Regions from separate parts of the Homo sapiens genome. Here region 1 is linked to region 2. A link means that fine-mapping ties the variant in region 2 to the plasma level of a protein whose gene starts in the linked region. Region 2 holds a variant in brackets. A gene starts in the other region. All regions are shown on one strand. Distances are from middle to middle.

Evidence for each region. PIP is the chance, under the fine-mapping model, that this variant and not a neighbour inherited with it causes the effect. The UK Biobank Pharma Proteomics Project read protein levels with antibody pairs (Olink). The fine-mapping took linkage between variants from a reference panel, not from the people measured, so its PIPs are less certain.
Region 1: it holds the start of LRRC25, and the variant in region 2 is fine-mapped to the plasma level of the LRRC25 protein (UK Biobank, PIP above 0.99).

What each region holds. Positions count from the first base shown.
Region 1 is chr19:18,394,502-18,402,657 of GRCh38, forward strand. It overlaps LRRC25 (leucine rich repeat containing 25), which reads right to left and starts at 3,121. Exons shown (of 2, transcript NM_145256.3): 1 at 1,684-3,121. The coding sequence starts at 2,462.
Region 2 is chr19:48,327,037-48,336,376 of GRCh38, forward strand. EMP3 (epithelial membrane protein 3 (MAM blood group)) reads left to right here. Exons shown (of 5, transcript NM_001425.3): 3 at 485-587; 4 at 2,316-2,456; 5 at 3,265-3,517. The coding sequence ends at 3,434. It overlaps TMEM143 (transmembrane protein 143), which reads right to left. Exons shown (of 8, transcript NM_018273.4): 7 at 6,972-7,161; 8 at 5,320-6,397. The coding sequence ends at 6,183. Among named protein-coding and RNA genes, the nearest start is that of EMP3, 6.2 kb to the left of the region's middle. RefSeq lists enhancers at 2,366-2,515, 6,222-6,957, 6,348-6,437, 6,448-6,497 and a silencer at 6,838-7,357. The variant A/G (reference allele first, on the strand shown) is at 3,315.

The sequences.
Region 1 (8,156 bases), 30 Mb before region 2:
TCACCATATTGGCCAGGCTGGTCTCGAACTCCTGACCTCGTGATCCTCCTGCCTTGGCCTCCCAAAGTGTTGGGATTACAGGCATGAGCCACCGTGCCCGGCCTAATTTTTGTATTTTTTAGTAGAAACAGGGTTCCACCATGTTGGTCAGGCTGGTCTTGAGGTCCTGACCACAGGTGATCTGACCTCGCCTTGGCCTCGAAAAGTGCTGGGATTATAGGCATGAGCCACCGCACCCCACACCAACCTAGAAAAGTTCAACTCATTTGTCTAAGCCCAGCAAAATCATCCAGAAGCCGGTGGCGGTGGCTCACACCCATAATGCCAGCACTTTGGGAGGCTAAGACATGAGGATCACTTGAGGCCAAGAGTTTGAGACCAGCCTGAGAAATATAGCAAGACCCCCGTCTCTATGAAAAATACAAAAATTAGTTGGGTGCGGCGGCATGTGCCTGTGGTCCCAACTACTCTGGAGACTGAGGCAGGAGGATCACTTGAGGCCAGGAGCTTGAGGCTGCAGTGATCTGTGATGGTGCCACTGCACTCCAGCCAGGGCGACAGAATGACACTGTCTCAAAAAAAAATGTCGGCTGGGCGCGGTGGCTCACACCTGTAATCCCAGCACTTAAGGAGGCTGAGGTGGGCGGATCACGAGGTCAGGAGATCGAGACCATCCTGGCTAACACGGTGAAACCCCGTCTCTACTAAAAATACAAAAAATTAGCCTGGCGTGGTGGCGGGCGCCTGTAGTCCCAGCTACTCGGGAGGCTGAGGCAGGAGAATGGCATGAACCCGGGAGGCGGAGCTGGCAGTGAGCCGAGATCGTGTCACTACACTCTAGCCTGGATGACAGGGCCAGACTCCATCTCAAAAAAAAAAAAAAAAAAATCATCTAGTGGTGATGGGACTTTGTAGGGCACCTCTTTAGTATCTCATGTGTGTCATGGGGAAATGGGGGGCTGTCCCCACTCTATGGAGACAGAAATGGAGGTTCAGAGACAGCCTTGGGTCACATGGGACCTGGGCCTATGCTGCTGACCGCCACCGCGGAGCCCCAACTCCGCTCAAGCAGTTGCCTCCTGTCTCCCCATCCTTGGCCGCCAGAAACTGGGTTTACAGGTCATAAGGGGGGGAAGTTTGTCCCATATATGGGAACTCACTTAATTCTTACCCCAACACACTATGATGGGGGCTGTAATTCTCCCTCATTTTACTTTATTTTATTGATTTTATTTTTGAGATGGAGTCTCACTCTGTCACCCAGGCTGGAGTGCAATGGCATGAACTTGGCTCACTGCAACCTCTGACTCCCAGGTTCAAGAGATTCTCTTGCCTCAGCCTCCTCAGTAGCTGGAACCACAGGCGCCCGCCACCACACCTGGCTAATTTTTGTATTTTTAGTACAGACTGGGTTTCACCGTGTTGGCCAGGCTGGTCTCAAACTCCTGACTTCAAGTGATCCGCCTGCCTTGGCCTCCCAAAGTGCTAGGATTACAGGTGTGAGCCACCATGTCCAGTCCTCTCCCCATTTTATAGGTGAGGAGACTGAGGCTCAGAGAAGTAAAGCTACTCACCTAAGATCCCACAGCCTTCAAGCGGCAGAGCTGGGATTTGAACCTCGGCCATCTGGGTGTGGAGCCTTATTATTCACCACTTTGGCAGGTGTCTCAGTGGCTTACTTACCCTTGTTCATCCCACTGGTGCTCGGCTGCTGGCTGGCCCACAAACATGTTCTCATAGTCGGGAGTGGAGGGGCAGGATGGCACGGCCACTTGGGGCTTGGGGGCGCTCCGGCTGCCGTACCGTGGCTGCAAGCCTAAACCGGGCTTGGGCCCATCCTGAGCAGCCCAGGGTTTGTTCAGCTCCCGGCTTCTGGCCACTCGGCATCGCCAGAGTCTCCAGGCCAGCACAGGGCCAGCGATGGCAAGTCCAAGAAGCAGGCACCCGCTGACCACCACTGCCCCGATAGTTGCAGAGGCCAGGCCAGGGGCGCAGCTGACCTCCAGGAAGGCAGAGAGGTTGTGCTGGGAGCTGGTTGTGTCCCAGCAGAGCAGAGGCTTCTGGCCAGAGCAGTTGTCTCGGCGGATGTCGTGCCAGGACTCCAGGGCACAGTTGCAGTCGGCCTGCAGGTCAAGGTCACAGCGGGCGGCCAGCGCCCCATCCACACGAGACAAGGGGTTGCGTAGCACGTTCAGGACCTCAAGCTTCTGCAGGTGGGCAAAGAAGGTCACTGGAAGCTCTCGCAGGCCGTTCCCAGACAGGTCAAGGAGAATCACGTTGCTGGCCCGCAGAGACTGGTTGTGAGGCAGGCTCAGGCTGAGGCCACTGAAATTCAGGCACGTGGCACTGAACTCCGCGTTCCAGTCCACATCCGCGGAGGACACGGTGCACGACGGTTCTAGGCTGTCTGACTCCCGCAGCAGCAGCGGCAACAGCAGCGTCCATGCCAGGGTGCCCCCCATTCAAGCAACCTACGTAGAGACACCGGAATCCTAGCCCTGACCTCAGCCCTGTGGTCGCCCTCGCCTCCACCGCCAGTGTTTATTATTATAGCTCAGACCAGCTCAAGCCGCTTCTGAAATGGTAAAACGCAGCCCCAGTCTGGTCGCCTCCTTTGGCTGGTGGGCTGCCTCAGTCTCCCCTTCTGGGGAATGGGTAGATAACCCCAGTGCTTAGCGGGCTTGGAAGGCGAGGAGGAGATCCGGGCCAGTTAACCCCTTCTTCTATGTCCTGAACATTTGGGGCGCCCTCGTTGGCCAGGACGGGACCCTATGCAAATAAGCGGTTGCCTTGGAAACGGCCCCGCCCCCTGATCACGCTCCCGGTATCTCCCAGAACGGCGGGTCGCTGGGAAGTCCTGGGATAGGGTGGAGTGGGGGCTGCTGAAAGGGTCCTCCCAGGTCTGGTTTGCAGTCCCTGCACAGGTGCAAGTTCTAGAGCCTCAGTCCTACCTTTTGGGTCCCACTGCCACGCTTTTGCCTCTGCGATGCTGGAAAAGCGACGGCGCCCAGAGGCTGCGTCCTGGCCCACCTGGACACGGGGGCCGCAGCGGCCACGGCCAGCACCGTCCGCAGCGCTGCTGGGGTCGCTGGCGTTCCTCTGGCTCTGCACCCAGCGACTCAGGGGGAAGAGGAACTGGTGTCTGGGTGGAGTGCAGAGGGGAAGAATGAAGACAGAGATCCGCCCCCTTGCAGGGCCTCAAGGTTCTCACCAGAGGTGGATGGAGGGCAAGAGGGAGGGGTGGACCAGAGTCCCGCTTCCCTCTTGCTAGAACCCAGTGACTTCATGTCCTCTATTAGCACCCCAACCGACTGCCACCTCATCAACTCGCTTCTTGATCTCAGCTTGGCTGGTTCCCAGCTCATGCAGTCATTTATTCATTCAACAAGCATCACCCACGCTGGGCCCCCAAGAGGCCTCAGCCCTGACCAGGTCCTCAAGGAGCTATCTTAAGAGAGGACAGAGCTGGACATAGACACTCCTAGTCCCATGCAGTTAAGGAAGGTCCAGAGGGAAAGACAGGGTCCTGGAAGGCTTCCTGGAGGAGGAGGCATTACAGTTGGGGCTTCAACGCATGAGTAGGAGTTCACTAAGATTCCCCAAACCTATCATTGGCTCTCCAAGCTCCTCCAAGCCTCTCCCACTGAGTTCTTGCACAGTGGCACCTCTATGCTGGAGGGGACAGTGAGGAGGGCTCCCAGCAGCTTGGGAAAATGTAGCTGGCTGGGATAGCATGGTTAGGAGTGGAGAGGATAGAAGGAATTGGTGGTGGGGGAAGAGGTCCATGTGGAGCCAAGGCAGGTGCGTGGGCAGAGGGGCACTGGCTCAAGAAGTCCCTCTGGAGTGAGCCTGGTGTCTGGGGTGGGCAACTTGGGGAGGAGGCTGAGGTCCCAGAAGCAGATGGGGGCCTGAGGCAGACTGGAGGGGTAGTAGTGACAAAAATGATACTGAGGAGGGGTGGGCTGGGAGAAGGCCTCACCTGAACCTGGTGTCAGGTGGACCAGGTACAACCTATGCCAGCCCGACTCACTGTGCCACCTTAACTGCGTGTGACACCATGTCCACAGCTGTCAAATGCACAGAGGCTTCTCCGGGATCTGGGAGGCTGGGAGTCCACTCCCCCACGTTTTCCCCTCTTTTCGGCCTCTGTCCTTCACATCGCCAAACTCCAAGAAATGGTCAAAGGCTTTGAACGGAGACCTTGAAGAAAAAGCGGGAAACTGCTTTTCAACATGTCCAGAGATGCTCATTCTTGCCAGGTGCAGTGGCTTACACCTGTAATCCCAACACTTTGGGAGGCTGAAGTGAGCAGATCGCTTGAGCCCAGGAGTTCGAGACCAGCCTGGCCATCATGGTGAAACCCCGTCTCTACTTTAAAAAATACAAAAATTAGCCAGGTGTGGTGGTATGTGCCTGTAGTCCCAGCTACTCAGGAGGCTGAGGCAGGAGAATTGTTTGAACCCAGGAGGTGGAGGCTGCAGTGAGCCAAGATCACTCCACTGCATTCCAGCCTGGGCAACAGAGTGAGACCTGTCTCAAAAAAAAAAAAAAGTTCACACTTAATAAGAAAACTGCAAATCACAAACTGTTTGTCTTCACCAATCAAATTGGCAAAAATCCAACAATGCAATGACATTCTGTGCCAGCCAGGCTGTGGGGTGCGTCCATGGTGTAGCACTGGTGGAGGGCACCCTGGCACAGGCCACCGGAATGATAAACTCATGTGCCTGCTGACACAGCAAGTCCACTTCTGGGAATCCCTGCCTGAATATTTGCATGTTTACAGTGTGAACTGACTAACGAATAAAAAAATGTGGCTCAGCCTGGACGTGGTGGCTCATGCCTGTAATCCCAGCACTTTGGGGGACCAAGGTGGGCGGATCACGAGGTCAGGAGTACCAGACCAGCCTGGCCAACATGGTGAAACCCCGTCTCCACTAAAAATACAAAAATTAGCTGGGCATGGTGGCACGTGCCTGTAATCCCAGCTACTAGGGAGGCTGAGGCAGGAGAATCGCTTGAACCCAGGAGGCAGAGGTTGCAGTGAGCTGAGATCATGCCACTGCACTCCAGTTTGGGCGTTAGAGCGAGACTCCATCTCAATAATAATAATAATAATAATAATAATAATAATTTAAAAATTAGCTGGGCATGGTGGCTTCAGCCTGTAGTCCCAGCTACTTCAGAGGCTGAGGTGGGAGGATCCCTTGAGCCCAGAAGGTTGTGACTGCAGTGAGCCGTGATTGTGCCACTCCACTCCAGCCTATGCAGCAGAGCAAGACCCTATCTCTAAAAAATAATTTAAAATAAATGGCTGGGCCGGCCGCGGTGGCTCATGCCTGTAATCCCAGCACTTTGGGAGGCTGAGGTGGGCGGATCACCTGAGGTCCAGAGTTTGAGACTAGCCTGACCAACGTGGAGAAACTCCATCTCTACTAAATACACAAAATTAGCCGGGTGTGGTGGCGCATGCCTGTAATCCCAGCTACTTGGGAGGCTGAGGCAGGAGAATCACTTGAGCCTGGGAGGTAGAGTTTGCAGTTGAGCCGAGATCACGGCACTGCACTCCAGCCTGGGCAACAAGAGCAAAACTCCATCTCAAAATAATAATAATAAATAAATAAATTGGCTAAAATGTTCAATTTTATGTTGTGTGTATGTTGCAGGTTTGTTTTTTTGAGAAGGCAAAGTCAGGCGTGGTGGCTCACACCTGTAATCCCAGCACTTTGGGAGGCTGAGGTGGGCGGATCACAAGGTCAGGAGACTGAGACAATCCTGGCCAACGCTGTGAAACCCTGTCTCTACCAAAAATACAAAAAATTAGCTGGGCGTGGTGGCATGTACCTGTAATCCCAGCTACTCGGGAGGCTGAGGCAGGAAAATCACTTGAACCAGGGAGTTGGAGGTTGCAGTAAGCCTAGATCGCGCCACAGCACTCCAGCCTGGTGACAGAGCGAGACTTCATATAAAAAAAAAAAAGAGAGAGAGAGAGAAGGCAAAAAGATGCTCCAGGCTCAAAGTGATTCATTGCAGCATTGTTTGTTACATGAAAAAAAATAAAATGGGCCGGGCACAGTGAGTCATGCCTGTAATCCCAGCACTTTGGGAGGTCAAGATAGGAGGATCGCTTGAGCCCAGGAGTTCAAGACTAGCCTGGGCAATATGGTGAAACCCCATGTCTACCAAAAAAAAAAATTTTTATATATATATATAGATAGATATACACACACACAAAAATTAGCTGGGAGTGGTGGCACATCCTTACAGTTCCAGCTACTCGGGAACCTAAGGCAGGAGGATCGCTTGAGTCTGGAAGGCAGAGGTTGAAGTGAGCTGAAATCGTGCCACTGCACTCCAGCCTGGGGTGACAGAGTGCAGAGTGATCCTCTGCCTCAAGAAGAAGGAAAAAAAAAAAAAGGAAATAACTTAAAGGATTGGTTACATTAGTAACAGTTCAGTTCATCCATCCTAGCATGCCACAAAGTTCTGAAAATGAAATTATAAATCTCTATGAACCTATAAGGAAAGACTCATTCATTTCCTCTGTAAGCCTTTATGAAGTTCCTGTTGTATACCAGGTACTATGAACCACAGACACAGCAGTGAATAAAACAGACAAAAATCCCAGCCCCCCCTCCCCCCACCTCTCACTGTAGTTGGGGAAACAGACAACAGGCAGAATCCATCGGGAAAATATATCAAGTGCAGGTGGTGGGAATGCTGCAAAGAAAAATAAGGGCAGGAAATGAGATGGGAAACTTTTATTTATTTATTTATTTATTTATTTATTTATTTATTTATTTGAAACGGAGTTTTGCTCTTGTTGCCCAGGCTGGAGTGCAGTGATGCGATCTCGGCTCACTGCAACCTCCACCTCCCGGGTTCAAGCGATTCTCCTGCCTCAGCCTCCCAAGTAGCTGGGATTACAGGCGCATGGGACCATGCCCAGTTAACTTTTTGTATTTTTAGTAGAGACGGGGTTTCACCATGTTGGCCAGGCTGGTCCCGAATTCCTGACCTCAGGTGATCCACCCTCCTCAGCCTCCCAGAGTGTTGGGATTACAGGCGTGAGCCACTGAGCCTGGCCGCAGAAGCAACTTTTCAATGGGATGATCAAGGAACCCCTTAGGGAGTAAGGAGGAAGGGATGTGGGGAACAGCATCCAGGAGTGGGAACAGCATGTGCAAAGGCCCTGTGGTGGGAGCAGCCCTGGGTAGAGAGCAGATGTCTCCAAATGTTTGTTCAGGCTGCTATAACAAATATGCCGTAAACTGGGGTAGCTTATGAACAACAGTTCCGGAAGCTGGGAAGTCCAAGATCAAGGCACCAGCAGATTCACTTCCTAGTTTGCAGATGACCGTCTTCTCACTGTGTCCTCAGTAGACAGCAGAGGGAGCAGGGGAGCTCTTGGGGCCTCTTTTATAAGGAGCAGAGGGATGGAGGAGCCCAGCCAGCAGTGAGCCTCATGCAGCTGCACGTCCTCCACGCCCAGTTCTGAGGCCTCTTAGAAAAAAAGGAAATAAAGAAATGAGGAAGTGCCAGACCCGAGGCTGCAGGTGGTGGGGGACAGGCAGGCCTGGGGTCTGGGATAGTGAGTTTTGGAGGTGGGTCTGGGGGAGCCGGGGGCCTTGGAGTCTGAGGTCTGTGGGGTCCTGAGATTTGGGGACTCTGAGGTCTGGGGATCCAGGGGTCTGAGAGTCCTGGAATCTAAGGGTCCTGAGGTCTGGGGGTCCTAAAGTCTGAGGATCCGGAGGTTTGGGGGTCCTGGGATCTAGGGGTCTTGGGATATGGGGGTTTGGTGGGGGGGTATAGGGGTCTGGGGATCCAGATGTCTGAGAGTCTTGGGGTCTGGGGGTCCAGGGGTCTGGTGGTTCTGAAGTCTGGGGATCCAGAGGTCTGGGAGTCTTGGGATCTGGGGGTCCTGCAGTCTGGGGGCCCTGGAGTTTGGTAGTCCTGGGGTCTGGGATGTAGGGAAAAGAAAAAGCGATCAGACTGTTACTGTGTCTATGTAGAAAAGGAAGACATAAAAAACTTCATTTTGACCCATACCCTGAACAATTGCTTTGCCCTGAGATGCTGTTAATCTGTAACTTTAGCCCCAACCTCGAGCTCACAGAAATATGTGTTGTATGGAATCAAGGTTTAAGGGATCTAGG
Region 2 (9,340 bases):
TTTCATTTATTTTGAGACAAGGGTCTCACTCTGTCCCCCAGGCTGGAGTGCAGTGGTGCGATCTCGGCTCACTGCAACCTCGGCCTCCCGGGTTCAAGCGATTCTCCTGTCTCAGCCCCCCAAGTAGCTGGGATTAGAGGCACCTGCCACCAAGCCCGGCTAATTTTTTTATTTTGGTAGAGACGGGGTTTCACCATGTTGCCCAGGCTGGTCTCGAACCCCTGGCCTCAAGTGATCCACCTGCCTCGGCCTCCCACAGTGCTGGGATTACAGGCATGAACCACCAGGTTAACCCTTTTAGCTCTACCTCCGATGCCTCCTCCCTGTCCTGACCCTACCCCCTCTCATATTAAATCCTAACTCTCCCCAGTTCTGCCCCATCCCAGATACCCTGCCCTTTTCCCAGCCCTTCCCACAGTCTGCCTGACCCTATCCCCTCTCCTTTCCTAACCCTGCCCCTTGTTTCGTTCTCTGTCCATCCCAGTCCTGGTGGACTCTCCCTGGGAAAGAGTCCCTGAATCTCTGGTACGACTGCACGTGGAACAACGACACCAAAACATGGGCCTGCAGTAATGTCAGCGAGAATGGTGAGGGGTGAGGGCGGCGGGACTGGTCTTCAAAGGGGAAGGTAAACCCTTCGTGTCCTCATGGGACTGAGAATTGGGAACCCTCCCCCAACAAAGTTGGAGTGGGCGGGGTCCAGGCCTGAGTGGCTGAGTGCCTAGGGCTAATGCATGTCCCGCCTGTCTGGATGTACCTACCTCTTGTTTTTTTTGTTTTTGTTTTTTGAGACCGAGTTTTCCTCTGGTTGCCCAGGCTGGAGTGCAGTGGCGCAATCTTGGCTCACTGCAACCTCTCCCTCCGGGGTCCGAGCAATTCTCCTGCCTCAGCCTCCCGAGTAGCTGGGACTGCAGGTGTGTGCCACCACGCCTGGCTAATTTTGCATTTTTAGTAGAGACAGGTTTCACCATGTTGGCCAGGCTGGTCTTGAACTTCTGACTTCAGCTAATCCACCTGCTTCAGCCTCCCAAAGTGCTGAGATTACAGGCGTGAGCCACCACATCCAGCCAGTACCTCCTGTTCTGAAGAGGCCATATAGATAAAAGCATGCTATAGGTTTAAAGAATAGAGAGGGGAGGCCAAGGCGGGTAGATCACGAGGCCAGGAGTTCGAGACCAGCCTGGCCAAGATGATGAAACCCCGTCTCTACTAAAAATACAAAAAAATTAGCCGGGCATGGTGGCGTGCGCCTGTAGTCCCAGCTACTTGGGAGGCTGAGGCAGAAGAATCGCTTGAACCCAGGAGGTGGAGGTTGCAGTGAGCTGAGATTGCACTACTGCACTCCAGCCTGGGCAACAGAGCAAGATTCTGTCTCAAAAAAAAAAAAAAAAAAAAAGAATAGAGAAAAATCTCCCAAGATTCTGAGAAGACAAGAGTATTTTTCCAAAGCTCTAAGGAGATGGGGCTGGTGCTCTGAATGGATGCCTGGGACCATTTCATCCAAATTCCAAGGGGATGGGGCTGAAACCACTTAAGGTTCTAAAGGGGTGGGGCCAGGTGCATTGGAGTTCTAAAGGAATAGAGCTGCATCTATCTAAAGTTCTGTGTGAAAGATTTAATGCAAAACTAAGATTAAAGGAAGTGGTCTGCTCTCACCACTTCTATTCAACCTTTTACTGGAGTAGCCAATGCAAGAAGGCAAGAAAAAGAAATAAAGGGCATGGGAAATAAATTAGGAAAAAGTGTCTCTATTCCCAGTAAACATGTTGTTTATGTAGAAAATCCATTAAAATTCTGCAAAGCAGACAGACACAGTGGCTCACACCTGTAATCCCAGCACCTTGGGAGGCTGAGGAGGAAGGATCACTTAAGCCCAGGAGTTCAAGACCAGCCTGGACAACATAGGGAAACCCTGTCTCTACAAAAATTTAAAAATTACCCAGGTTGTGGTGGCTTGTGCCTGTGGTCCCAGCTACTCAGGAGGCAGGGGTGAGAGAATTTCTTGAGCCCTGAAGGACGAGGCTGCAGTGAGCCATGATTATACCACTGCACTCCAGCTTGGGCAACAGAGCAAGACCTGGTTTCAGAAAAAAAAGAAAAAGGAAATTGGCAAAGCAACTACTAGAACTGAGAAGGGAATATAGCAAGGTAACAGGGCTCAAGGTCAAAATAAGTGATACATCTAAGTATCTAGGCTTGTATGGGCCTAAACGGGAGCAGGGATGGGGCAGAGAAGGGTCACATGGTGAGCAAGCAGGTGAAGCTGGAACTCTGGACCCACGGTGATGTCCCCCTCTGTGTCCTCCTTACTGCAGGCTGGCTGAAGGCGGTGCAGGTCCTCATGGTGCTCTCCCTCATTCTCTGCTGTCTCTCCTTCATCCTGTTCATGTTCCAGCTCTACACCATGCGACGAGGAGGTCTCTTCTATGCCACCGGCCTCTGCCAGCTTTGCACCAGTGAGCACTGCCCCTCCCCAACCCTAATCCCCCAAGAATTGAGCAGAAGGGAGTGGGGTGTGTCAAGATGCTGGGGGCCCTGAGAATGGGCCTCTCGTAGAAAAAAACAACTTTCAACACCCCACGAGCCACAAGAGGTGCCTCCGTGGGCTACATCTCTGCCCCCAGGGATTGCTGGGACTTGTAGTTTTCAGTGGCTAATGATAGTTATGGCTTGTGCGTATGAGTCATCAGGGAACTCAGAGTTTCAGGGAGCCGGGGCTGGGGAAGGAGGTATAGGTAAATAGTTTTGGTCCCAGGGATCGGCCGTGACGTGGGGGGATAAACTAATTAGTACCTCAGTAGAGAGCTCTAAATCATAATAATAATGGTATTTATATCAGCCAACCGCTGTTTCTTGCGTGCCTATTGTGCATCAGATACTTCAAGAAGTTTTGCGTACTTTTTAATTTTTTGACTTAAGGTGCAAAGGGCTAACTTAATCACAGTCAGTTTGGGGAACATTATAGGTTCTTGCAAAGCTTCTCTCTTGGTTTATGAATTTACTACTGCATGTTTGGCTTATAGAAACACACTCAAAAATATTCCTTGGATGGATAGAGAGATATTATTGGACCTAGAGAGATTAAATCAGTTACCTAAGGCCGCGCTACAGTTGCACGGCGCTGGGCGGGGGGGAAAGAACCACAACTCCCAGCAGGCAGCGGCGCTGCCCACGGGCCCTCCGGCGCTTCTTTGCCCCCATGGGATATTGGGAAATGTAGTCTTGAGGGGGCACTGCATGACGTGTGGTTTTCATCTTCCGCAGGCGTGGCGGTGTTTACTGGCGCCTTGATCTATGCCATTCACGCCGAGGAG[A/G]TCCTGGAGAAGCACCCGCGAGGGGGCAGCTTCGGATACTGCTTCGCCCTGGCCTGGGTGGCCTTCCCCCTCGCCCTGGTCAGCGGCATCATCTACATCCACCTACGGAAGCGGGAGTGAGCGCCCCGCCTCGCTCGGCTGCCCCCGCCCCTTCCCGGCCCCCCTCGCCGCGCGTCCTCCAAAAAATAAAACCTTAACCGCGGGCTCTGCCTTGATCTTCCTTCCTTCCGCCTCCAGGGACCCAGGCTGCGCACGCTTGACCTCTCCTGAACCTAACATGGTCCCCACCGCCAGCTGCTCAGCCCTCAGAATGCCCATCTCCCAGCCCCCAACCCCTTCCTCCCGAGGACACAGGAGCCGGGACCCCAGGCACCTTTTCCCTCCCACAGACCCAAGAGCCTGGGCCTTCCCCGCTCAAGGCCCAAGAGACCTCTGTGAGGCACCTGAATCTAGACCTTCAGACACTTCTGGGAAGAACCTGGATTCTGGGTCCCAGCAGACCCTGTTAGGATAGGAAGCCTGCAGTGACCAGTCCTGTCTCCTTGCTCAAGCTTCTGTCACTCTGTTGCTCTCTCTCTCTGAACCCCGGGCATAGTGTGTGTTTCTAGATTGTCGGACTCTTTTTTTCTTTCTGTCCAGGTTGGAGTGCAGTGGTACGATCTCAGCTCACTGCAACCTCCGCCTCCCGGGTTGAAGCGATTCTCCTGCCTCAGCCTCCCGAGTAGCTGGGACTACAGGCACGAGCCACCACACCCGGCTAGTTCTGGACTCTTTTTTCTTTCTACTAACTTTCCATTTGGGAAGACAGCTTTCTTTTTCCCTCTAGGAAACCAGTCTCCCTCTCTCTCTTTTTTTTTTTTTTTTTTTTTTTTGAGACGGAGTCTCGCTCTGTCACCTAGGCTGTAGTGCAGTGGTGCGATCTTCACTCACTGCAACCTCCGCCTCCCGGGTTCAAGCAATTCTCCTGCCTCAGCCTCCTGAGCAGCTGGGATTACAGGCGCCCACCACCACGTCCGGCTAATTTTTGTATCTTTAGTAGACACGGGGTTTCACCATGTTGGCCAGGCTGGTCTTGAACTCCTGACCTCAGGTGATCCACCCACCTCAGCCTCCCAAAGTGCTGGGATTACAGGCGGGAGCCACCGCGCCCAGCCCAGTCTCCCTCTCTAGGGACTGAACATTTGGGGTCCTAGAGAGGGAGACTTCCCCTGTCTCCCCAAAGGCTGCCTCTAGCCCATATGACACGTTAGCAAAAATTAGGAGGCACCCCTTCTTCTGGCTGACCCAGCCCCACACCAGGATACATGTAGGGGTATGGGCTGGGTCTTACAGCCACCCACCCGTGGCTGTGTTCCTTTGTGCAGTTAACAATCTGCACAGGCCGGGTGCGGTGGCTCACGCCTGTAATCCCAGTACTTTGGGAGGCTGAGGCAGGTGGATCACCTGAGGTCAGGAGTTCGAGACCAGCCTGGCCAACATGGTGAAACCCCGTCTCTACTGAAAATACAAAAAATTAGCCAGGCGCGGTGGCAGGCGCCTCCCAGCTACTCGGGAGGCTGAGGCAGGAGAATCACTTGAACCCAGGAGGCGGAGGTTGCAGTGAGCCAAGATCATGCCATTGCATTCCAGCCTGGGCAACAAGCGCGAAACTCCATCTCAAGAACAAAAAAAAATCTGCAAATCTGCACAATCGCACATGGCTACGCTATCTCCTCTGTTCATCAGGCCCTGGGACTCCTCTGGAATCAGATCCTTCTAAGATCCTCTTCTATGACTGTCTTTGTTTCACCGACCATGAACCCAGCCTCTTTTTAGGACTACAGCTTTCTCTGTCTGGGACCCCAAGACCTAGCTAGAGTCCCTCCCCTCTTTCCAGGATTCAAATGCTTTCCTTCCCTCCAACTCCTGCAGCCATCCCACTCATCTAGATTTTTAAAAATAATTTTTTAACCACTCCTACAGAGCAGGGTTACCCTAAAGGCAGTGCGTTAAGAGTAGCCTCATCCAGACTTATTAAACATGATTTATTACTTTGGGACAGGAGACGGGAGAAATTGATAGACCAATAAATATTGCACAGGCTGCTGGTGGTGGGGAGATCCAGACCGAGGTAGTTTCTGTAGAAAGGGTGAAAGACCTGGGCGAGGAAGGCACCTGAGGTTGCCGGGAGCCAGGTTGGGAGCGAGTCTTGGTGGCGAGGGTGGTTTCTGGTTCACCTACCTAGCACAAGGTCTCCAACTCCTTCAGCCTAGACACCCTGATCAGCAGCTGACCAGTTGGCCTGCCATTTAAGCAGCAGCAATTGATAGCAAGATCAGGTTTCCTTTAGAAATTCTTATTGGTTCCTTCCCTGCAGCGACAACCGGCTGCCCAAAGTTGATGGAACCCAGCAGCTGTCACTGGACGTTTGCCAGGAGGCAGGGCTAACGGCCTTGGTGCACATGATGGGCAGTTTGCCCGGAGCGGGCTGAAAAAGACAATGATATATAGTCTCGGGAGGGCGCAGCTTTAACTCTTCTACCTGGCGGTTTACAGAAGCCAGAGCTGAGCAGCTGTGATTGGCAGACACCCTCAGCTCCTCAGCCAAACCACACTTGGATGTTTATGGTGAGGGTGGGACTAAGAAATGGAACAGAAGCAGAGCTAAATCGCTTTGATTGGCTGTTCATCGAAGGGGCGGGGAAGACTTAACAACTGCTAGCTGCTTTGATTGGCTGCTTTGCTTAAGCACACAGTGCAGCAAAAATAATCACCTGTCAGTTATTGGAAGTTGGAGTGAAAAGTATAATAACCGTAATTGACAGCCTGTCGTGAAGGAGGCGGGGCTTAGTTCCTAGCCTGCTGACTGGGCAGGGAGGTAGGTTCTACTCAGGAGATGTTACTGCTGGGCGTGGCTTGCGGGGGCTCGGAAGTGATCGGAGCCACTGGGTCTAGTTTGGGGAAACCCGGGGGTGGGTACAATCCCATGCTGGGGGTCAGGGCCTGCAGATGCGCCAGGGCCCGAGTTCCGTTGAAGGTCACCTCACAGCCTGACTTGGCTAGGAGCCAGTTCTCCACCTCCGACCGGAGCCACCTGGAGGTCTCTGCAAGGGGAGAGGCAGGTGTTCTGAGGTCACACTGAGATCGGGGAAGATTCGAGGGAGCAGCAAGGAGGGGCGTAGGGCAAAGAACAGGAAGGGCCTGGGTTTGGGAGAAGCCTAGGAGTGATCTTGAGGCTTGGAGGGGAGCGGAACAAGGCCCAGGAGGGTCGAGAGGGCCAGAAGGCCCAGCTCTGGGGCTTTCGTCTGGGGACCAGTCAGGGGCTCTTGGGCAGGGAAGGTGGGGGCTCCTGTAGGCAAGGGGACCACCTGGAGCCCACACAGGGAGCGCGCAGGATCTCTTGTAGGGAGAGTGTCAGCTCAGGTAGAGGAAAGAATGACAGGAGGGGGCCGTGCCATGGAGCCAAGACTCCCAACCAGGCTGAGGTTAAGAAAGGGCTGTCACATCAGGCACCAAGATCGGAGTCTGGATTCGGAGGTCCTGTCTGCTGAGGGCCGGGGTCTCTTCGCAAACCCGTCAGGTTCACCCGTGGGAACTGGGGGTGGGGACGCATCTCGCTGGGGCGGGGCCTCGCGGGGGTGTGGCCCCTGGGGGCAGGGTCCCAGGGCCACGTCCTACCTTCGGGCGAGCCTTGAGTGCCCCCTGGCCGCCGGGCCAGGAAGCTGTGAGCCAGCAGCGCCTCCTTGGTGTGCTCGTCCTGCGCGCGCAGGGCCAGGGCGCTGAGCAGCTCCGAGTTGTTGGACGTACTGCGATAGTACAGCATGTGCGCCAGCTCCAACGCCTGCGCGCTGCGCCGCTGCCCGAACATCTGCAGGCGGGACAGCGCCCCGTGGGCTCAGTTCGGGGTGCGCCCCCACCCATACACAGCCCCCGGGGTCACCCCCGCTGGCACGGCCCACGCCGCTTACTCCCCTGAGGAGGCGGGGAGGTCCTACCCAGACCTCTTCAGTACGGGTCCCCAGAGCTCAGTCGAGGGATCTATTTGGGGATTTTTGGGGTCTGTCTTTTCTTTTTCTTTCTTTTTCTCTCTTTCTTTCTTTCTTTCTTTCTTTCTTTCTTTCTTTCTTTCTTTCTTTCTTTCTTTCTTTCTTTTTCTTTCTTTCTTTCGTTCTTTCTTTCTTTTCTTTCTTTCTCTTTCTTTCTTTTCTTTTCTTTCTTTCTTTTTCTTCCTTCCTTCCTTTCTTTCTTTTCTTTCCTTTTTTTTTTTTTTTCGACAGGGTCTCGCCCTGTAGCCCAGTCTGGAGTTCAGTGGCTATTCACAGGCAAACTCATAACGCACTGAAGCTTTGAACTCCCGGGCTCAAGCGATCCTCCCGCCTTGGCCTCCTAAGTAGCTGGGACTACAGGTGTGCGCCACCAAGCCCGATATTTTTTGTAGAGACGGGATTCTCCCTGTGTTGACCAGGCTGGTCTCAAACTCCCAGCCTGGAGTGATCCTCGCTCCTCAGCCTCCCATAGTGCTGGGGTTACAGGCGTGACCCAAGGCACCGGCTGGGGATCTGTATTTTTAACACACGTGCCCTCATTCCAGTGGCTCCAAGACCACCAGCCCCATCTGGCCTACAGTTTTCAGCAACCACTGCACTGGTTTGCTCATCTGAGCCATGTATTAATGGATTTACCCAAAGGTTTGCAGATGATAGGAGTTTTAGCTTTGAAAGATTTTGTTACAATACATCCTTATGTTTTAGAGACATAATAAAGTATTTCCAAATAAGTCTAGGTAGGATTTACTTCAAAATCATCCAATAGTAGGACAGTGGAGGTCTTCAGGGGAAATCTGATTAACTATTGCTAATTGTTGATGCTAGGTGCTGGCTAGTGGAGTTTATCATACTATCCTATTTCTGTGTTTGTTTGAACTTTTCTATAATGAAGGAAAAAATGGTTTAAAATATTAAACTGTAGGCCAAGTGCAGTGGCTCAGGCCTGTAATCCCAACGCTGAGAGGCCAAGGTGGGTGGATCACCTGAGCCCAGGAGTTCAAGACCAGCTTGGGCAACATGGCAAAAGCTTCATCTCTACAAAAAATTAAAATTAAAAAACAATAGCAGGCTGGGCTCAGTGGCTCACGCCTGTAATCCCAGCACTTTGGGAGGCCAAGGCAGGTGAATCACCTGAGGTTGGAAGTTCGAGACCAGCCTGACCAACATGGAGAAACCCGTCTCTACTAAAAATACAAAATTAGCCGGGCATGGTGGCTCATGCCTGTAATCCCAGCTACCCGGGAGGCTGAGGCAGGAGAATCGCTTGAACCTGGGAAGCAGAGGTTGCAGTGAGCCGAGATCATGCCATTGCACTCCAGCCTGGGCAACAAGAATGAAACTCTGCCTCAAAAAATAATAATAATAATAATTAGCTGGGTGTGATGGTGAGCACCTGTAGTCCCAGCTACTCATGAGGCTGAAGCAGGAGAATCACCTGAACCCAGGAGGCTGAGGCTACAGTGAGCCATGATCATACCACTGCACTCCAGGCTGGGCAACAGAGTGAGACCCTGTCTCAAAAAAAGAAAAAAGTTAAATTGTAAAGAGAAGAGGAGAGGGGAAGGATGTTGGGGGGAAGAACAGGTCTGGGCCCAGCTGTCTACTGGCTGCCCACTTCCCCACCGTTAGTCTCTTTGCTTGGACCCCTCTTCTCATCCTTGATATTGGTAAGGAGAAATGAGGGCATCAGTGCCCTCTGGGCTCCCACTGAAAAACTGTGCCCAGGCCAGATGCAGTGGCTGACACCTGTAATCCCTGCACTTTGGGAGGATGAGGAGGGCAGATCACTTGAGGTTAGGAGTTCGAGACCAACCTGGGCAACATGGTGAAACCCCATCTCTACTAAAAATACAAAAATTAGACCTGGCACGGTGGTTCATGCCTGTAATTCTAGCACTTTGGGAGGCCGAGACGGGCAGATCACTTGAGGTCAGGAGTTCGAAACCAGCCTGGCCAACATGGTGAAACCTTGTCTCTACTAAAAATACAAAAAAAAAAAAT